Linked DNA regions of Homo sapiens. The protein of the gene in region 3 interacts with the protein of the main gene of each other region in a biochemical or structural test. Each region holds a gene or a part of one and is shown on either strand. Other genes may lie near its edges.

Region 1 (6,301 bases), on a different chromosome or scaffold from region 3:
CCACCACATCCAACTAATTTTTATATTTTTAGTAGAGACCGGGTTTCACCATGTGACCACTAGGCTGGTCTCGAACTCCTGACCTCAGGTGATCCATCCGCCTCAGCCTCCCAAAGTGTTGGAATTACAGGCGTAAGCCAACACACCCGGCCACTTTTTTTTCTTTTTTTTTTTTTTTTTCTGCTTTGTAGCCCAAGCTGGAGTGCACTGGTACAATCGTGGCTGGGACAGGTGTGCCACAGCACCTGGCTACACCTTTTTTTTTTTTGAGAAGGAGTCTCGTTGTGTTGCCTGGGCTGGAGTGCAGTGGTGTGATCTCGGCTCACTGCAACCTATTCTCCTGCCTCAGCCTCTGGAGTAGCTGGGATTACAGGTGTGGGCCACCACGCCTGGCTAATTTTTGTATTTTTAGTAGAGATGGGGGTTTCACCATGTTGGTCAGGCTGGTCTCAAACTCCTGACCTCGTGATCCACCCACGTCGGCCTCCCAAAGTGCTGGGATTACAGGCATGAGTCACTGTGCTCGGCCCTGGCCGAACCTTTTGTGAGCACTTACTGCGTGCTAGGCACCTACTAAGCTCTTTGCGTGTGTTGGTCCTCATGACCCTCTTACTCATCCGAAAGTTCCATGGCTTAGTCTGTGATCCATTTCACAGGTGAGGAAGCTGAGGCCCAGAAGAACTTGCCCAAGGTCGTGGAAGCAATAAAGCTGGTTTGGATCCAAGCAGTCCCATCCCAGTGCCTAGATGGGGTGGGCTTTTACCTACCTTGGAACGTGTGTGTAAAGACACCTTGAAACAAGAGGCATAGGCAGGGCGTGGTGGCTCATGGCTGTAATCCCAGCACTTTGGGAGGCCGAGGCGGGTGGATCATGAGGTCAGGAGTTCGAGACCAGCCTCACCAACATGGTGAAACCCCGTCTCTGCTAAAGAAAATACAAAAATTATCCGGGTGTGGTGGCGCGCGCCTGTAATCCCAGCTACTCAGGAGGCTGAGACAGGAGAATCGCTTGAACCCAGGAGGCACAGGTTGCAGTGAGCTGAAATGCGCCACTGCACTCCAGCCTGGGCGATAGAACGAGACTCCGTCTCAAAAAAAAGAAAACAGAAAAAAGAGGCACGACACAATGATAAGTGATGTCGTTTTTCTTGTTACAGTTACCAGTATGACAGGTGGGAAGGGGCCGGGTGTGGGTTCTGGCCAGAGGGACCTAAGAACATTAGGTCCTGGCAGGTGCAGCCCTGGGAGCAGCCACGAGGGGGCATCAGGCTGCACAGGCGGCTCCAGGATGTCGGTCCGGGACCGGGCATAGGGGTTAGCGAGTGATTCTCGGGCACCGCAGGACGAGCCCTACACAGAGCAGGTGGGCCCAGGAACCCCCTTTCTCAGTCCAGGACTCCCAGGCCTCAGGGCCTGGCTTTGGTGGCGCCCGTCTGTTGCAGTGGAGTTCGGCGGTCACAGCCTAGGGACCGGGTCCAGCCCAGCCAGCTCAGCAGCAGGTCAGCGCCCTGCCCCTTCCCGCGTCGCTGGGACGCCCCGAGCCGCTCAGGTCACCACGCAAAAGCCCTGGGTAATCCGCCGCCAGAAGTTGCGACCGCGGCTGCTGAGGGCCACCTCGGCGGCCTCCTGGAAGACGGCGTGGACGTTGTCATGGAGCCGAGCCGAGCACTCGAGGTAGGCCACCGCGCCCACGGACCTCGCCATCTCCTGGCCCTAGAGGGAGAGGTGGATGGGGCTGCGGTGAAGGGGGCACTGGGCAGGCCTCACGTTCTCGCTTCCTTTTCCCGGACAAGAGTGGAAGGTGGGGTCTGCGGAGCACCCATGGCTCCCGTATCCCTGCTTGCCCAAGCGCCCTCATGCACTTCATCATGTTTGTTTTTCTTTTCTTTATTTTTATTATTATTATTTTTTTGAGACGGAGTCTTGCTCTGTCGTCCAGGCTGGAGTGCAGTGGTGCGATCTCAGCTCACTGCAGCTCCTCCAACCGGGTTCAAGTGATTCTCCTGCCTCTGCCTCCAGAGTAGCTAGGACTACAGGCACCCGCCACCACACCACTTGGCTAATTTTTTGTATTTTTGGTAGAGACAGGGTCTCGCTATTTTGCCCTGGCTGGTCTCGAACTCCTGACTTCAAGTGATCCACCCACCTCGGCCTCCCAAGTGCTGGGATTACAGGCGTGAGCCCCTGCGCCCTGCCAGCCTTCGTTGTTTTTAACCTCCGTTCTGGGCCTCTTTGCCTCTCAAGGCACCAAGAAATGAACTTCCCATGAACCCAGACGTGTAGCAGAGAGGGACCCACGGTCTGAATATGTGGGTGCCTGCCTGGGCCCCCTCTCTGGGTCTCAGGTTGGTGGTGGAACTGACTCTGATATGCCTACTTCCTTGTTCTCCCTTTTGCCTGTGGAGGCTCCCAGAATATTCTAGGGACCATTTCTAAGTGCTGGAAGTTTCTGACCTCTGACAGCCTCTAAGACGACCGCAGCTCTGACCTACACCCTGAGCGTTCTGGACACCTGGTGCCACTGAGAGGCATCCAGAGGTCCCCTCACTCAGTCCTCCCCAACTCCCACCTCGGGCTGGGTTTCCTACCCTGTGGTAGGTCACAGGCTCCAATCCGTTTCTTCGGAGCTTGTTCACCAGTGATTTGTCCTTGCGCAGGTCAGTCTTGCAGCCCACGACGATGATGGGTACCTTCTTGCAGAAATGATTCACTTCTGGGTACCACTGCAGGGGGGCGAGGGGGCATGTGGGGGGCATGTGTGAGCCCTGGAGAGTTCTGGCCCTCTCAGTGGACCACTCTCTTGCTCCCCAGCCTGAGCTCTGATATGGATAATCAGCAAAGCCAGCACCTAGGGAGAAACTATTTGGTACCAGAACCTCATCTAAGAATTTACACGTATGGACCCATTAATTCCCCGAGGCCGTGGCAGCAAGTTCACAACCAATCCCACTGTACAGGTGCGGTAACTGAGGCACAGAAAGGCGATGTAACTTGGCCTTGGCTGGAAATGGCAGGATTTGAGCCTGGGGGTGGGGCTCAGAACCCTGCTCCTGCCGTTCTAGAATCTTTCCTCTCTGCAGGGTAAGGGCCCTCATGGACACCCACCAAACTGAGCAAAACATATAAGGAAGTAAGGGATCCTTTAAAAACAAATCTGGGCCAGGTGTGGTGGCTCACGCCTGTAATCCCAGCACTTTGGGAGCCTGAGGCAGGTGGAACACCTGAGGTCAGGAGTTTGAGACCAGCCTGGCCAACAGTGAAACCCTGTCTCTAGTAAAAATACAAAATTTAGGTGGGCATGATGGCGGGTGCCTGTAATCCCAGCTGCTCGGGAGGCTGAGGCAGGAGAATGGCATGAACCTGGGAGGCGGAGGTTGCAGGGAGCTGAGATCGCGCCACTGCATTCCAGCCTGGGCGACAGAGTGAAACTCCATCTCAAAATAAATAAATAAATCAATTAAAAAGATAAAAATAAATCAATCAATCCAGGCCGGGCTCGGTGGCTCACGCCTGTAATCCCAGCACTTTGGGAGGCTGAGGGCAGGCAGATCACCTGAGGTCAGGAGTTCGAGACCAGCCTGGCCAACAAGGGGAAACCCCGTCTCTACTAAAAATACAAAAATTAGCTGGGCGTGGTGGCGTGCACCTGTAGTCCCAGCTACTCTGGAGGCTGAGGCAGGAGAATCGCTTGAACCTGGGAGGCGGAGGTTGCAGTGAGCTGAGATGGAGCCACTGCACTCCAGCCTGGGCTACAGAGTGAGACTCCGTCTCAAAAAAATAATAAATAAATAAATCTGCTCACAAAATGGTTGCAGCAGCTGTCTGCCTCAACTGCTTGCCTGGTGGAGGGAGGGCTGCTCTGCAGAATGTGAGGCCACCAGGGCCGAGTTCTTTCAGCCTGGACTACAGCTGGGGAGCCGGGGATCCCGGGAGGGGGCTTCCTATCTCCAGGAGCACTAAGTCGGCTGAAGTCGGCTGGTTTGGGCATGAAACTTGCCTGATAAAAATTGGCATCAGCCGGGCTTGGTGGCTCAAGCCTGCAATCCTAGCTACTCGGGAGGCTGAGGCAGGAGAATCGCTTGAACCCAGGAGGTGGAGGTTGCAGTGAGCCCAGATTGTACCACTGCACTCCAGCCTGGGAGACAGAGTGAGACTCTGTCTCAAAACAAACAAACAAACAAACAAACAAAAATTGGCATCAAACTACCTCATTCCTGGAAGCAAATGGGGCCTTTGTGGGGTCCCTGGCAGATTCCCCACACCCCCGCATCCACCGAAACTGCCCATGAGAAAGGTTTCCTTGGTGGCTCCCACTGAACCCAGCAGTGAATCCTCTCTTTTTTGAGACAGTCCCGCTCTGTCGCCCAGACTGGAGTGCAGTGGTGCGATCTTGGCTCACTGCAACCTCCGCCTCCCGGGTTCAAGCAATTCTCCTGCCTCAGCCTCCCAAGTAGCTGGGTTATAGGCATGTGCCACCACGCCCGGCTAATTTTTGTATTTTTAGTAGCAACGGGGTTTCACCATGTTGGTCAGGCTGGTCTCAAACTCCTCAAATAATCCACCCTCCTCAGCCTCCCAAAGTGCTGGGATTACAAGGCGTGAGCTACCGCACCCGGCCACCATCAGAGAATCCTTAGCCCTGCTCCTACTGATCCCTCGATAACCCCGACCCTGGGCATCACTCCCTCCTACCTGACTGAGCCTGCACTTCACCCCAGGACCCCACTCTCCTGGCTCTCCTAGGTCTTATGGGGCCTTGCCCTCCTCCTCCTCTCCCTGGGGTTCAGCCTGTGGTCTTTCCTCTCCTCTAGCTGCTCTCCCTTCCTGGGCAGCCTCCCCCAGGCTTTACTGCACCCGTAGCTTCTAAATGTGCAGCTGCATTTAGGCTGCCCAGCTGGACTGCCTGCTCGGAGGAACTGCAGACGCATGCATCGCACTGCCTGCCGGACACCTCCACTAGGATGTCCCACTCCCGAACCCAGCTTGCTCCTTGTCATCTTGGCCAAGGGCAACTCCACCTTCCAGCTGCTCTGGTAAAAACTCCTCCCAGGCTGGGCGTGGTGGCTCACGCCTGTAATCCCAGCACTTTGGGAGGCCGAGGCGGGCGGATCACGAGGTCAGGAGATCAAGACCATCCTGGCTAACATGGTGAAACCCCGTCTCTACTAAAAATACAAAAAATTAGCCGGGCGTGGTGGCGGGCGCCTGTAGTCCCAGCTACTCAGGAGGCTGAGGCAGGAGAATGGTATCAACCTGGGAGGCAGAGCTTGTAGTGAGCCGAGATGGCGCCACTGCACTCCAGCCTGGGTGACAGAGCAAGACTCCGTTTCAAAAAACAAACAAACAAACAAAAAAACTCCTCCCTCCCACCCACATCCAATCCAACAAGAAACTCTGATCATCAGCAAACTCCGCCTTCTAGACCGATTCAGAATCAGCCCCCTTCTCGTCACCCCCACTGCTAGCACCCTGGCCCCAGGCACCACCATCTCTCCTGGTACCCAATGCCCAGAACAGCACCAGAACGAATGTGCTCAATCATTCGTTCTGAATGAATGGGCGGAGCAGCCTGCCTGGGTTCAAATCCCAGTGTTACCACTTTAATAGATGTGTATCTTTGGACGAGTGACTGGATCCGGGAATAATAATACTCCATAAGGTTGGCCGGGGGAGTAAATGAGTAAATACATGCAAGTACCAAGAACACTGCCTGGCACGTGGTCAGTCCTTAAAATTGTCACCGTTGTTGTTGTTGTTGCAAATACTGTCATGGGCTGTACCCTGCGGAAACTCGGAGGCCCTGGCAGCAGTGGGTGAGGGGCTGTGCCATGGCTAAAGGCAGCTGGAGCAGAGGAATTCAAGGGGCCACATCCCTGATGCCCATGAGCAGCCTCTGAGAACCAGCAGCCACGCAGAGCTGCTGGACTCTGACTTGACTGTTCATGCACCTTGGGCGGGCACAGGCTGGGGAGATGTAGCAGCCTCTGGCTCACCCAGCAACCTCAGGCAGAGCCGCCGTGGGAAGAGCCACAGTGTTCGGAGTCTGCAGCATAGGGTAGGCAAGGAGCACTGTACTGGGAGTCAGAAGGGCAGACGCTGCCACCAAATCCCTGTGCCAGCAACCCTGGGCAAGCCACTGCCCCACTCTGAGCCTCAGTTTCCCCATATATACACCAAAAGCTCTGGAATCAATATCATTTTGGGCCTGCCAAGCTCTGACAGTCAGCTGGGTCGAGGGTGGGTGGCAGAGTGGAGTGGCCTGGCTATGGGGGCTATGCCTCCCTGCCCCCCAGTACCTACC
Region 2 (7,630 bases), on a different chromosome or scaffold from region 3:
TTTTAATGAAAAGTTTATTTATTTCCATCCCACAGACAGACTTGTTTATTATTTTAGGACCTAAGATTTAGAAAGTTCAAGGCCTTAGAGGCAGGAATTGGGTGGAGAAGGGTTTGAAAGAAGAAAGGACATTGAAAAGTTAGATATAACCTTGGCTTTATTTTTGATCAGCAGTTAGATGACAGAAAGTTCTAGGTCATTTTCAGAGCATTACAGATTTGTGCTGTTATTCATAAATTTGTAGAAACAAGGCCATTTGAGGTTTGGGTGGAAATTTCTGGCCCATTTCTTCAACCTTATCTCATGTCATTGTATTTAAAAAAAATGAGGTAAACTTCATAAAGACTCCAAACATGTTAGTCAAAATTCTGAATTTCCAGGCTCTTAGAGATTTATGTCACATCCTTTTAGTTGAATACAATTTTTTTTATACCTAAACTGTCCTTTTTAATTTTCACAAGGATTTCCCTGAGAGGTGATGCTAGGAATGTGAGCAAAGAAGGTAAATAATTTGTTCAATTTTTAAAAATAGTTAAATGATCTAGTTATGTAAACTTAGATGTCTAAAATAGCATATCCTAATATTTTCATACATAATTAAGTAGCTATTTTTCAAATAAGGTGCTTCCTTTCAGTTCCTAGTGCTAGTCTCTTAATCATGGTCTCCACTATACTTTTAAATATTTTCTCTCTAGTAAAATGTCTCTAGTCTCCAAATAATTGCCAGAAGCAGGTTTTTGGAGAGGCTAACACGTTACGATAGTCACATGGACAGAAGGCAGGCAGACATATCCAGGCTTGACTGTGGACTGTCCACTTAGTGTATGCATGACGGACCATGGATAAGACATTGAGACTCACTCTGATCTCCGTTTTCTGGTCTGTGAGGATCACCTTAATGCAACTATAATGAGGAGTCAATGAGAGGAAATTTGGAACACCCCTGGCTTAAACTAAGTGCTCACTAAATGGTACCCGTTAGACTAAAATAGTACATGGCACTCAATATATTGAACCTAGCATATGCCCCAGCAAGCAGAGCCTCTAATAAGACAGTAATTTCAAGTTTTTCTTCTTGATTATCAGAAGCAGATAATTTTCATTTTCTTGAAATGAAAATCAAAGGTCCCCTTGAGTAGAGATTAATGAAAGGAGGACTACAGTATTCCTGCTGGACTAGATGGTCCAGGAGAGCAGGGGACCTGTTTGCCTCATTTTCTGTTGTGTCCTGTATGCCTGGAACATAACAAATGCTTGGTGGTTACTTTTGAATGAAGGAAGTGCAGTTTTATGCACGCCTTCTGAGAAACAAGCGGCTGGACCTCAAATTTTCACCCTGCTGAGTAGTCACAATTCAATCTGGATTTTGTTTAAGCCTACCTAATGAAAGGTTACTGCTTGAACACATCACTTGGCTTCCAAAGCCACTAAAGCCCCAAGTTTTACCCTAATTTTTTGATTCAGAAATTATTTTTTAGAAATATAGTAATCCTGGACTGGGCGCAGTGGCTCACTCCTGTAATCCCAGCACTTTGGGAGGCCGAGGCAGGTGGATCACGAGGTCAGGAGATTGAGACCATCCTGGCTAACACAGTGAAACCCCATCTCTACTAAAAATACAAAAAATTACCCAGGTGTGGTGGCATGCACTTGTAGTCCCAGCTACTCAGAAGGCTGAGGCAGGAGAATGGCGTGAACCCAGGAGGCAGAGCTTGCAGTGAGCCGAGATTGTGCCACTGGCCACTGCACTCCAGCCTGGGCAACAGAGCAAGATTCCATCTCAAAAAAAAAAAAAAGAAAGAAAAAAGAAATATAGTAATCCTGGAAAATTCAGAGTTTGTCACCATATAGAGATATAAAGAAAATAAGATTGGAACAAACCATTCTGCTTTATAGGTGATTGATGAAGGGCATTTTCATTATTTTGACAAAGTAGGCTTCATCATTTTGGCAGAGATGGAAATCACGTTGGGCAATGGCTGCTTAACACACTCTGAACTCTGCTATCTTCTGTTATTAACCAGAAGTCTGTTACCCAGCGCTTCAACACATATTCATGTGCTCCTAAGTCAATCAGAATTCACAGTGATGATCTCAGACACCATAATATCCAGAGGTACTTTCTGAGTCATCAAGGAGAGATTAAATTATGCTCATTCAGGGTCTCCCATCGAATGCAGTTATTACTTTCTCATTCGTTGGAAATTGGTTAACTGGATATTTGATTTACCAGTATACCTCAGTTTTTCCATTAAAGCTGAGTACAGAGATTTACTGTAAAATAATATCACTGAAAATAACGACCTCAATCCTCCATTACAAAACTCATTTCTCCCTTCCATCCTGAAGTGGTCTTAAGCTTTCCAAACAAGGCTGCCAAGTGAAATACAAAATGTCCAGTTAAATTTGACGCAGACAAACAAGACATAATTTTTCAGAATAAGTATGTCCCATGCAATATTTGAGACATATGTGTACTAAAAAATTATTCATTATTTCTCTGAATTCTAATTTCACTGGGCATCTTGTTTCTTGTTTTGTTGTTTATTTGCTAAATCTGGCAACACTATTTCCAAAGGGTTTGACCTGCACCGGGCTGACCTGTACCAGCCTGCTATGAAGGGACAGAGTTAAACGCTAGCATCTCATTCAAACCTTGAATTAATTGTTAATGTAATTTTTCTGCAAATTATTGTTAAAAGTGAGTCACATAGTTTTCAGTCAAAGGTAAATCAAGTTGCCTCTTCATTTTTTTTTTTTTAATGAGGCAGCTATATGGAAGGAATAACAGTCTCACTTTGCACCATGGATATGTTGGCTAAATGGGGACAGGGCATCACTAAGTCTATGAATACAGAAACTGTGCCCCAGCCGAGTCTGCATTAGAGAAAGGGCATTAATCTGGTGACGGTTCTGCTCTCCTTACAGTATTCAAGTTAATTATGTTTGCCTCCAAATGGTAACATCTGGTCCCCATTACCAGCTAAACATTGCCTTTCTAAAAGCTTGTTTGGAATCAGGCAGGTATGAACACCGTGGCCAAAAAATGGCACTCTATTTTTAACACTACAGTTTCATAGTCCCTTAGTAAAATTGTTTTTGTAAATCTTTTTTTAATCCCGACTGAGTATATTCTTGGTTTCCAGATCCCAGCCTGGAGCAAATACTGTGGTTAAGTTACAGGAAAGGGCAATTGAGAAAATGACAGCTGCCTTTCATTGTATTAAGTTGATTCATTCAACAAATATTTGTTGAGCAAATACTATGTATAAAACAGGGCATGAAGAGTCATATAAAACAGAAAAATATGACTTAGTTCGTGTCCTCAAAGAAGTTAAAATCTGGGGAGGCAGAAAGCAGCATTCCAAAGAACTAAATGTGCTCATCAGCATTTGAGGGCTGGATATGGTGGCTCAAGCCTGTGACCCCAGCACTTTGGGAGGCCAAAATGGTAAGATCTCTTGACCCCAGTAGTTTGAGAGCAGCCTGGGCAACATAGCGAGACCAAAAAAAAAAAAATTGCCAATCATGGTAGCATCCACATGTAGTCCTAGCTACTCAGGAGACTGAGGTGGGAGGATTGCTTGAGGCCAAGAGTTCAAGGCTGCAGTGAGCCATGATCACACCACTCCACTCCAGCCTGGGTGACAGAGTGAGACCCTGTCTCTAAAAATAAAAATTAAAAAAAAGGCCGGGGTGTAGAGGGGCCAGGCGCCGTGGCTCACACCTGTAATCCCAGCACTTTGGGAGGCCGAGGCAGGCATCACGAGGTCAGGAGATCGAGACCATCCTGGCTAACACTGTGAAACCCCTCTCTACTAAAAATACAAAAAATAAGCCGGGCGTGGTGGCAGGCGCCTGGAGTCCTAGCTACTCGGGAGGCTGAGGCAGGAGAATGGCGTGAACCCGGGAGGTGGAGCTTGCAGTGAGCCAAGATCGCCCCACTGCACTCCAGCCTGGGAGACAGAGCGAGACTCCTTCTCAAAAAAAAAAAAAAAGAAAGAAAGAAAGAAGGGAAATGCAGATAAAATGGTGTGAAGAGGCCCAGAAATGGAAAACTGTGTCCAGTTGCAGAGAACAGAAAAACTGAGTAAACGATGTGGCATTTGAAAACAGGTCAGGATTTTAAGCAGTTCAGATAATGGAAAAGGGTAACATGACAGGGAATTCCTTGTGGAGGGAACAGAAAGAAAGCTCCCAAACTCCCAGAAGTAAGGAAGTTCTTCATGCCAATTGGCACTGGTTAAAGGAGTGAATGGGGAGAGGCCTTGCAAGGACATGACATGGAAGGCCTGCATGCCTGACTGAAAATGACGTGCGTAATTTCTAGACAAGAAGGCACTGAATGTCTGAGTAAAGAAACGACATGATCTGGACCATAGAACTCATGTGGAAAGTATCTGAGTAATGAATTCTTAAGGTTCAGCTGATAATGTGGACTTAGTTTAATTGCATTAGATGTTTGCCTCTCACTTAGGGGTAGTTATATTTTTAGGCTAAATTTTTATTATATAACGCAGAATTGAGTTGCTTCAAAGAAAAATAGGTTATCATTCTTGCACATGTTCTTGATTAGGATGTACAGTTTCTAAAGGAAAATACTTGAAGTGTTGGACATTTTGTCATTAAGCCAGCGTTGAATTCATCAACAACTGATACTCTCCTTGTGCTCAGAAGCTCCTTGGGCTGCTTTAGAAGACATAAAAAGGTCTATGATGCTGTTCATTGCCTTTGAAGATCTTATAATCTAGCTGTGGGTACATGACTAACAATCTTAAAGCCTTAGAGAGCAGTGGAATGCTGAGCTCTGTGCTACTTACATCATATTTCTGAGAAGGGAGAGCTCAGAATAAAAGCTAGAGTAGCTTGAAAAGTTCTCTTCATGAGTCTTAAGCTGGGTTTTGAGCAAAGGCAATGATGAGGATGACGTCTAGACTGTATGAGAAGAGAATTGCTTAACTGAGATGTATTGTCAGTAATAGAAAATCAAATTAGGCAAATGGGATGAAGTCAAAATGAGGGTCTTGAATGCCAGATCGAGTTTTGATATCTTCCTATCAATAATGGAAAACCATGGTACATTTTCAAAAGATATCTCTTTTCTATTGTCGGGGTAAAATATACATAACATAAAATTTACCGCTTTAACAATTTTCAACCACTTTTAACCATTTTAATTTTATCATTGTACATTTTTAAGTGTACAATTCTGTCGCATTAAGTACAGTCACATTGCTGTGCAAGCATCACCACTATTTCCAGAATTTTATAATTGTCTCAGACTGAAACTCTGCACCCATGAAACACTAACTCTCCCAATCTCCATTTCCCCCAAGCCCTGGCAACCACCATTTTGCTTTCTGTCTCTACGAATCTGACTGATCTAGTGATAGGCTACTCCTATCCATGGAATCAGACCATATTTGTCCTTTTTTTGTTGGGCTTCTTTCACTTAGCAGTGGAGATTTTTGAGGATGAGAATGACATGCTTAAAACAACATTTTCTGAAAATTTAAGTAGCAGTTGGTGTAGTGGAGATTCAAAGTGGGGTCTGGGAGGCCAACCAAGAGCTGATGTAGCACCCTGGCCAGAGCGCTCGGATCAGGATAAATCCAGAAGAAAGGAAGGTAGCAACAAGAGTTCTGTTGCTTTCTTGTACTTAATAAAAACAACAGGATTTGGCAGCAAAACGGAAATGACGAGATGACTAGGCAGGAAGTGGATGATTGGTGATGCCACCAATTAAAAGACAGGGTTCAGTGAAAAGATGCAGTATCCAGGGGAAAGGACTGTCTTAGTCTGCTTGTGGTACATTTGAGATGACAGTGAGACATTCATGTGGAAAGTCCCCAATGCAATTAGAAATAGGGGTGGGGAGAACAGTTGTGGGGGATCATGGTCACTATTCTCCCACACTCAATTCAAATGCCACCTCCCCTGGGAGGTCCTCTATTACCTCTGCAGGCTGAGTATGCATTCGTTCTCTTTACCTCTGCATCACTGTCTCTTTACCTTTGTTTTAGCAACCTTCCTGCTATCGGATTGACTTCTATGCATATCTCCAATCCATCATAAACTATGAACTTCTCTTAAGCAGGGCCAGTACTTGATCCAGGGATGAATTCTGGATACCAAAGAGACTGAAATATGAATGTTAAACTTAGAAGATGTCAAAGCGGGGGAAATGTATGTTCTTATTGAAGATTTGCCTTACTGGGATGTGAGTTTAGAGACGGGAATTCTGACAGAGCAGGAGGAAGGTTTGAGGGAGGAAAGATTTACTGTAAAATAATCCAGAGACTGAAAATTGTATATGATTGGGTACAAAATCATGTCTTTATTCCATATGTTGTATTTTATTTCTTAGCATGGAGTCGCCCAGGAAATCATTTTACATTATCTGTTTCATTTCACTTCCCAGATTATCCTTGCTCTGGAATGTTGGGTATGGTGTCTGGACTTATTTCTGACTCCCAGATCACATCATCCAACCAAGGGGACAGAAACTGGATGCCTGAAAACATCCGCCTGGTAACCAGTCGCTCTGGCTGGGCACTTCCACCCGCACCTCATTCCTACATCAATGAGTGGCTCCAAATAGACCTGGGGGAGGAGAAGATCGTGAGGGGCATCATCATTCAGGGTGGGAAGCACCGAGAGAACAAGGTGTTCATGAGGAAGTTCAAGATCGGGTACAGCAACAACGGCTCGGACTGGAAGATGATCATGGATGACAGCAAACGCAAGGCGAAGGTGAGGGCTGGGGACTGGGAGGAGGTCATCCCTTATGTCCTTGACTTCAATCAAGGGCCTCTGGCATTCTCCCGAGGAAGGGCTTCTTATTTCCTTCCAGCCATGACATTAGAGGAGGTGTGTGATGGGGTCAGTAAGACCCTTGATTCTAGGAAGACAGGAATATGGCATGAAAAGTGATGTCTGAGATAACATGCAAAAGAATTGCATTGCTGGTCCCATTCCCTGGCTGTAGGGATGGACAGACAGCTCAACATGCAGACAGGAGACGGGGAAGCCCAAGGCTGACAGCAGCCATCCAGCCAGCGCTCAGAACCCCTTGCAGATACCACTCAGTCGTTTGGGTCTGCCCTCCCCCCATCTCAAACCTACCCCTAGTTTAAGTGCTTTGTTTCTTTTATAAATTTTTATTGTGGGCCAGGCTCAGTGGCTCATGCCTGTAATCCCAGCACTTTGGGATGCCGAGTCGGGCGGATTGTCTGAGCTCAGGAGTTCGAGACCAGACTGGACAGCACGGTGAAACCCCATCTCTACTAAAATACAAAAAATTAACAGGGTGTGGCAGCGTGTGCCTGTAGTCCTAGCTATTCTGGAGGCTGAAGCAGGAGAATTGCTTAAACCCGGGAGGCAGAGGTTGCAGTGAGCTGAGATTGCACCACTGCTCTCTAGCCTGGGTGACAGAGTGAGATTCCGTCTCAAAAAAAAAAAATTAATTGTGATAAAATACATATAATATACAATTTCCCATCTTAACCTTTTTAGTGTGCAGTTCAACAGTGTTAAGTATGTGTATATTGTGCAACCAATCTCTAGAACTTTCTCATCTTGCAAAACTGAAACTCTACACCCATTAAGCAACAACTCCCAGTCCCCCTGC
Region 3 (7,630 bases):
GTACTCCTACGAGGGGAACGATGTCAGCGACCTGCCAGTGAACCTGTCAGTCGTGTGGAACGGCAACTTTGTCATTGACAACCCACAGAACATCCAGGGTGAGTGGGCGCCCCGGCGGGGTGGGCAGTGGGCGGGCCCGAGCTGACCGCACCCCTCCCCACAGCGCACCTCTACAAGTGCCCGGCCCTGCGCGAGAGCTGCGGCCTCTGCCTCAAGGCCGACCCGCGCTTCGAGTGCGGATGGTGCGTGGCCGAGCGCCGCTGCTCCCTGCGACACCACTGCGCTGCCGACACACCTGCATCGTGGATGCACGCGCGTCACGGCAGCAGTCGCTGCACCGACCCCAAGATCCTCAAGGTAGGGCCCCCAGCCCTGCCCCCACACCCCATGCCCCGCCCTGCACCACCGCACACCCTACGCCCTGTGGGATGCCTGTACCCCAGCCTCTGCCTCCCTCAGCTGTCCCCCGAGACGGGCCCGAGGCAGGGCGGCACGCGGCTCACTATCACAGGCGAGAACCTGGGCCTGCGATTCGAAGACGTGCGTCTGGGCGTGCGCGTGGGCAAGGTGCTGTGCAGCCCTGTGGAGAGCGAGTACATCAGTGCGGAGCAGTGAGTGCAGCCCTGGGTGTGTGCGGGGCGGGACGGGACGGGGCGGGGCTCCTGCAGCCCCTGAGGCCCGCCTGCCCACAGGATCGTCTGTGAGATCGGGGACGCCAGCTCCGTGCGTGCCCATGACGCCCTGGTGGAGGTGTGTGTGCGGGACTGCTCACCACACTACCGCGCCCTGTCACCCAAGCGCTTCACCTTCGTGGTGAGTCTGCTGCCCTCCCTCTCTCCCTATTCTCTGCTGCTCTGAGAGGGTGCCGCTCAGGGCTTCTGTGCCTCTTCAGGGCCCCTTGTCTGGCCATGCTCTGCCACTGCTTTTCCACGGCCTGGGTGCTGCCCCTCCCCTCCTGTGCCTAGGCCAGCTCCAGGGCTCCCTGGCTCACCTTGGGCTGTGCCTGAGAAACCTGGAAGTACTGGCTCTGAAGTGCAGCTCCCGGGCATGCGGGCTCCTAGTCTGGGGAACTGTCTGTGGGGGTAAGCAGGCCAAGTGGGGCCTGTCCCCATGTGGCCCGAGGGGGACTTTCCTGAGAGTTTCAGCAAGTTCCCTCTTCCTGCAGACACCAACCTTCTACCGTGTGAGCCCCTCCCGTGGGCCTCTGTCAGGGGGCACCTGGATTGGCATCGAGGGAAGCCACCTGAACGCAGGCAGTGATGTGGCTGTGTCGGTCGGTGGCCGGCCCTGCTCCTTCTCCTGGTACGGGGTGCAGGTGGGGGTGGGGGCCTGGCTGCCCCTCCTCCTGTTTCAGATGGTTGCATGCCCCTTCTTGTTGCCTGGGCAACGGGGCTATGGAGAGCCTGGCTGGGGTGATCACTGTGAAACCCAGAGGCGGAGGTTACCATGGAAACAGGCTACCTCCAGAGTGGTAGGACTGGGCGGTGATGGGCGTGGGGCCTGCCTTTGTGGGGCGGGGCAACTTGGCTGCCTCTGCCCTGGTTCTTCCCTGTGGGGAAGGGGGGAATCCCTTGGGTACAAAATAAGAAGTATTTTTTAAAAATTTTTAAGAGAGAAAACAGAAATCTTAACAAAAGCCCTGAGGCTTGAAGTGGATAATTTTAGATTAGGGATGATAATGGAATGTCCCTTTAAATATTTTCCTATGGTAATTACCCGTTATCAGACTAATCATTGGTGTCTGCAGCTGAGGGGGCCTGGTGGCTGTGGGGCTCCTGGCAGTGGTGGAAGAACTGAGGGTCCGGACCCAGGTGTGGGCTATGCCTGGCTGCCTGCCCAGTGGGGTGTCCCCGTGACCCCCACCCAGGCCAGCTCATCTAGTCTCCTCACAGCCCCCTGGGATGCGGGGATAGGGCGAGGTATTCCCACTGGGACAGGTGCCGAGAGGGAAGGTGTCTGCCTGGCCCAGGGTAGTAGGAGTGGGTGCTGGGCTCCCAGCACTCGGAGCCCCGGCTGAGTGAGGCTGGCCCTGAGACAGGCAGGGAAGGTCGCGCCAGGGCTTAGTCTCGCCAGCCCTCCCCAGGGACAGAGGGAGGGCAGCATGAGCCTACCTCCCAGCCTGGCGTGCGTGGGACGGGCCTGCTGCCTACTGCCTCTGGGGAGGCAGAGGCCTGGTGGGTGTGGAGCCCTGGCCAGGGTCACCAGGAGTGGGTGTGGGCGACAGGGAGGCTGTGATGAAAGCAGACCTGGAGAGGCGGCAGGCCGGGTCCCAAATGCCAGGCTGGGCAACAGTGGGGGCCTGAAGGGGCTGGGAGCCAGGGCGAGGGTAGGACAGACATGCACAGCCCTGGGAGGGAAAGTAGCGGTGATAGTATGCAGCCACCCAAGGCAGTACCTGTGACAGATGGCGCTGTTCCCACCGTCCCTCAATGCATCTGCATTCCACCTGCCTGGGTTCCACCCGTGTGCTCCTCACTGTCCCACTCGGGCACCTCCAGGAGGAACTCCCGTGAGATCCGGTGCCTGACACCCCCCGGGCAGAGCCCTGGCAGCGCTCCCATCATCATCAACATCAACCGCGCCCAGCTCACCAACCCTGAGGTGAAGTACAACTACACCGAGGACCCCACCATCCTGAGGATCGACCCCGAGTGGAGCATCAACAGGTGGGGCCCAGCAACACCCATTCCCTATCCCCAGCTATTGAGAGCAGCGCTGAGCCAGGAGCTCTTCCACTGGGCACTTGGCGGTGGCCCTCCTGCATGCCGGGTACTATCCTGCCGGGAAGCACCCCTTGCCAAGAGCTTTTACCTGTTTCCTGTCTTTGGGGAAGGCAGGCTTTGCCTGGCTGAGCTGTGGCCCACGTTTCCAGCTCACTGGGCCCCAGCATCATTTGGTGACCCCCCCACCCCTGTCCTGTTCCAGCGGTGGGACCCTCCTGACGGTCACAGGCACCAACCTGGCCACTGTCCGTGAACCCCGAATCCGGGCCAAGTATGGAGGCATTGAGAGGGAGAACGTGAGTCCCTGCCCTCAGCTGCCCACCTCGGTCCAGGCCTTCACCTGGGATGGGGCTCCTGCTAGGAATACCCGTGTCCCTGCCCCTGCCCCTACCCCTGCCCCTTCCCAGCTTATGCCAACCTTGGCTGTGCCTGGAGACCCCTGGGGAGGCACCTGTCCTGCCTGGCGGGTAGAAGGTCTGGCTCTGGGTTGCTGGCTGCACACACCTCTCCTTCAGGCCACATGTCCCTGGTCCACGTCGGGTGGGTGGCCCAGGACCAGCCCTGCTAGTGCCTGGCATCATCTGTGCAGGGAGCAGGCAGCCCCCAGGCCAGGGGCTCTGTCACTGGGAGCTGCCGGGCCACTCGCGGAGGTCCCGCCCAGCATCCCCACCCTGTGTCTCCAGGGCTGCCTGGTGTACAATGACACCACCATGGTATGCCGCGCCCCGTCTGTGGCCAACCCTGTGCGCAGCCCACCAGAGCTGGGGGAGCGGCCGGATGAGCTGGGCTTCGTCATGGACAACGTGCGCTCCCTGCTTGTGCTCAACTCCACCTCCTTCCTCTACTACCCTGACCCCGTACTGGAGCCACTCAGCCCCACTGGCCTGCTGGAGCTGAAGCCCAGCTCCCCACTCATCCTCAAGGTGGGTCACCATTGCCCGTAGGCTGGGCCAAGCCAGGGAAGAGGCCCCTCGTCCTGGGCTCTGGCTCACCCCCATCTCCTACAGGGCCGGAACCTCTTGCCACCTGCACCCGGCAACTCCCGACTCAACTACACGGTGCTCATCGGCTCCACACCCTGTACCCTCACCGTGTCGGAGACGCAACTGCTGTGCGAGGCGCCCAACCTCACTGGGCAGCACAAGGTCACGGTGCGTCTGTCCACCGGGGGTGCAGAGCTGGGAGAGCCATGCCCCACCTGTGGACCCTGCCCCACTAGCACAGCCCCAGCTCTGACCTTGCCCGAGACTCACCCCTAGCTCAGAGGGCGCCCGGCTCCAGTGCAGGCCCTGCCGTAGCCTTCAGCCTGCCACCTCCTTGAGCCCCCCGAGACTGCCTACCCACCCTGAGCCCTTGCCATGCCAGTGGTGCCCTGGCTGGCCAGGCGCCTGCCCTGGGTCCCAGTGTCTCCACCCTGGTGACCACTCTGTGCCCCTGTCGGTGGGACCTTTCCCACAGGCAGGTGTTGGGGGTGGGTCTTGCCCATCGGGAGGGGCTCCCAAGCTTTGTGGAAAGCATGGGAAGCTCCTGAGTGGCCTCCACCCACTGGCAGGTGCGGGCAGGTGGCTTCGAGTTCTCGCCAGGGACACTGCAGGTGTACTCGGACAGCCTGCTGACGCTGCCTGCCATTGTGGGCATTGGCGGAGGCGGGGGTCTCCTGCTGCTGGTCATCGTGGCTGTGCTCATCGCCTACAAGCGCAAGTCACGAGATGCTGACCGCACACTCAAGCGGCTGCAGCTCCAGATGGACAACCTGGAGTCCCGCGTGGCCCTCGAATGCAAGGAAGGTCTGTTGGGGCCAGGGCTCACTGGGGCAACTGCCACCTCCGAGCCAGGCCCTGGCCTGTCCCCACACCTACTTCCCACCGCCGCCCCCACCCTGCTTCAGCTCAGTTTACAATGTTCCTGATAGCCTTGCTGTGCCAGAGCTGGTCCCAGGGCAGTGGGCGGGTGCCTGACCAGGGCCTGGCCCTGCAGCAGGTACCACCTCCTTGGGGTGCTGCTTGCGACACAGAACCCAAAGCCAGACTGTTTGCATTTGTATCCCAGCTGGGCTATAAGGCTGAAGGTGGCTACTTACCCTTCTGTGGCTCAGTCTTGTCGTCTCTAGAGTGGGCACAATGACAGTGCCTACTTTCCCTGGGTGCTGGGAGTCGTGGTGGGTTGGCTGGTGCCAGCGGAGCAGCAGAGAGGGGTGCTTCCACCATGCAGCAATGGGGAGCCCTTGCGCTTTGGCAGTCCCTGGGCACATAGAGATCTTGGCCTGAGCTGACCTTTGTCCTTGAGATGTCTATAGGGGGAGTCATGCCACACCATGCTCCTGATCAGGGCAGGTGTGAGTGGCAGAAATCTGTTCCATGCCGGGCGAGACTTTGAGCGTTTGCAGATAGTAACTCACACATGTTCAGGGCTCTAGGGGGCAGATACTAGGAGTGTTCCTGCTGCAGTGTAGGACCTTAGCCATGTGGTCCAGCATGGGGTTGTCATGAATTCCACTGGGACTCAACTGGGATGGGGTGTTTTGTTTGCACAGGACTCAGCCAGTCTTAAAATGCAAAGTTCTGCATCCTGGGAGCCCTCTCAGTCCCAGACAAACCTAAGTGGCCCTGTGGTGGGCTGAGGGTCACCCTACCTCTTGGGCAGCCCTGGTGGGACTGGAGGCAGGTGTGTGTTGGGGCCAGGTGGGAGGCAGGTGGCCTGGACCTCCCTTGTGCTCCCGCCTGCTGAGGCTGGCTGTCTGGCGAGGCTGGCGTGTGTGGATGCAGTGGCTGGTGGCTGCTCCAGGCCAGCCAGGTGCAGATAACTAGACGCCTGGCAGCGATGCCCAGGAGACGAAGACTCCAGCTCTTAATTAAACCTGTCAGATGTCCCCCAGAGCCTGCCTGGCACTCCTTTGGCTTCTGATCAGATAGCCTGATCCTCGGGCTGCCACAGGACTGACACCTCACAGCTCTGGAATGTTCTGTCAGGGCCTGCCTGCCTTTGTTCCTGACAGAGGCAGAGCTGGCCCTGAGCAGGGTGGGCCATGTTGAGGGTGCACCAGGCCCGAGATGTGCATGCAATGGTGTGGGGGCTTGGGGACAGCCTGCAGCCCTGGGACCTCACCCCTGGCCGCACTCCACCACCTCACAGCGGGTGGAAGGAGCCCGAACTCCAAAGCTGCTCTACGCTTAACTGCCAGTGTCTGAGATGCAGGAGGCCCTGCCCAGCCTGCCCCTGGTGCTGATGCTTTCTCTGCCCTTGTCTTGCTTGATCCTGTGGGAACCTTGCAGAGGAGAGTTACTATCCCTGTGCTAGGGCTGTAGTAGCTGGGGGACGAAGAGGCACAGTAGTTTCCTTAAGATCACGAAACCAGTAAGTGTCAGAGCCAGGATTTGATGTAGGCCCCAAGAGTGGGAGGGTTGGGGCATGGAGCGGGGCCACCAGGGCATGCTGCCCCTGACGCCGCATCTGGCCACAGCCTTTGCAGAGCTGCAGACAGACATCCACGAGCTGACCAATGACCTGGACGGTGCCGGCATCCCCTTCCTTGACTACCGGACATATGCCATGCGGGTGCTCTTTCCTGGGATCGAGGACCACCCTGTGCTCAAGGAGATGGAGGTAGGACCACTGGCTCCGGGGGGTCACAGGAACTCAGAGGCAGCTGCTATCTTCTGCCTTTGAGGCTCCTTGGGTGCTGATGGATGGTATGGGGCAGCCTGTGTGGCCTGGGGGAGGGTCCAGGCCTGCAGGGCTCTGGGCTCAGCCAAGTGGGGAGCAGGTGCTGGGAGGCAGAACCAAGACCAGGCAAGCACAGTGGAGCCCTGAGCCCTGGGGTTGGGGCAGGGGAATGGCCAGCACGGCTCTGCTCCATAAAGTACCTCCAGAGGGCAGGAGGAGGCTCTGGCCCCAGGGCCTCCGTGGGATGCCAGGCCTCATCCCAGCAAACCACTTGTCAGCCTGGGCTTCTGGCACCTCCCCGGTGGCTGCCCCTTGGGCCCTGCCTCTGTTGGGGGTCCCGCCTGCGGCTCCACTGGCCTGGTCTCCTGGGTGGCTCTGGATGCGAAGCCTCGCTGGGCAGGGGCCGTGTGCTGGGAGGTGCGGGTGCCTGATGAAGTCTGCTATGGCGGTTTGGGAGGGGAGCATGTGGCTGGCATAGCACCAGGGTCTCAGAGAGTAGGGCTTTGCCCCGTAGACCTTGGCAGCGAGCCTGGCGAGGGAAAAGAGGGCTGGCTCCCACACCCCTAAAAGGCCCCCAGCGGCAGGCAGGCTAGGAGCCAGTCCTTGGCGAGCCACGGCCAGGGGCTCGGCAGGTTAGCTCAGTCACACTCTCCAGCTGAGGGCACCCCCCAACCGTGTGCCTTGGATGTTGGGGAGCCCATGTCCCTTGTGGTGACTCTGTTGGTGGGAAGTCCCTTTTGAGCTGATACTGAGCAGACCTTCCCGCCTTGGGCCCTGGGCTGCCTGTGGCTGAGTGCTGCCATCCTGTTCCTGGGCTTGCTGCCACACGGGGCTACACAGCCTCCCCAGGTTGTATCTCTCTTTCAGTGCCTCCATTTGCTGTGTCTGTCACACTGTCTCTCTCAGCTGTGACTGTGTATGTTCTGCCTGGGCCATTACCTGTCTGCCTGATACCTGTTGGCCTTGGCTGGGAGCCTGGTATCACTGGTGGCCTCTGGGCTCTGCCTAATAGGGAACATATTGCCCTGATAAACCTTAGTATGAACAAGAGAGAGAGAGTAGGGACCCTGGAGCCAGCTATGCCTCTACTCCACTCCTTTTTCCTACCTGCAGTGTGGCCCTAATCAAACCTCTTCCTGTCTCCAACCTTGTGTCCTCATCCATGAGATGCAGAGACTGGTCGTGCATTGGTTATCATTGTCAAGGCGGAGGGAGATGGTAGACATGCACTCCTGGTACCCAGT

What was found.
Region 1: the proteins of PLXNA1 (region 3) and RHOD form a complex in vitro, tested with the Homo sapiens proteins (one study listed by BioGRID).
Region 2: the proteins of PLXNA1 (region 3) and NRP1 interact in a test that uses a peptide from one of them, tested with the Homo sapiens proteins (one study listed by BioGRID).

The regions. Positions count from the first base shown.
Region 1 is NC_000011.10:67,066,847-67,073,147, reverse strand, and holds the end of RHOD (rho-related GTP-binding protein RhoD), read right to left. Parts: coding exon 6,301-6,301; intron 2,724-6,300; coding exon 2,589-2,723; intron 1,714-2,588; coding exon 1,546-1,713; 3' UTR 1,131-1,545; downstream 1-1,130. UniProt on the Homo sapiens protein: Involved in endosome dynamics. May coordinate membrane transport with the function of the cytoskeleton. Involved in the internalization and trafficking of activated tyrosine kinase receptors such as PDGFRB.
Region 2 is NC_000010.11:33,212,509-33,220,138, reverse strand, and holds part of NRP1 (neuropilin-1 isoform a precursor), read left to right. Parts: intron 1-6,317; exon of another isoform or gene 6,318-6,421; coding exon 6,422-6,753; exon of another isoform or gene 6,754-6,901; intron 6,902-7,630. UniProt on the Homo sapiens protein: Cell-surface receptor involved in the development of the cardiovascular system, in angiogenesis, in the formation of certain neuronal circuits and in organogenesis outside the nervous system. Mediates the chemorepulsant activity of semaphorins.
Region 3 is NC_000003.12:127,014,019-127,021,648, forward strand, and holds part of PLXNA1 (plexin-A1 precursor), read left to right. Parts: intron 1-1; coding exon 2-98; intron 99-163; coding exon 164-357; intron 358-459; coding exon 460-611; intron 612-692; coding exon 693-813; intron 814-1,165; coding exon 1,166-1,302; intron 1,303-2,498; coding exon 2,499-2,666; intron 2,667-2,925; coding exon 2,926-3,019; intron 3,020-3,406; coding exon 3,407-3,646; intron 3,647-3,730; coding exon 3,731-3,874; intron 3,875-4,275; coding exon 4,276-4,510; intron 4,511-6,183; coding exon 6,184-6,326; intron 6,327-7,630. UniProt on the Homo sapiens protein: Coreceptor for SEMA3A, SEMA3C, SEMA3F and SEMA6D. Necessary for signaling by class 3 semaphorins and subsequent remodeling of the cytoskeleton. Plays a role in axon guidance, invasive growth and cell migration.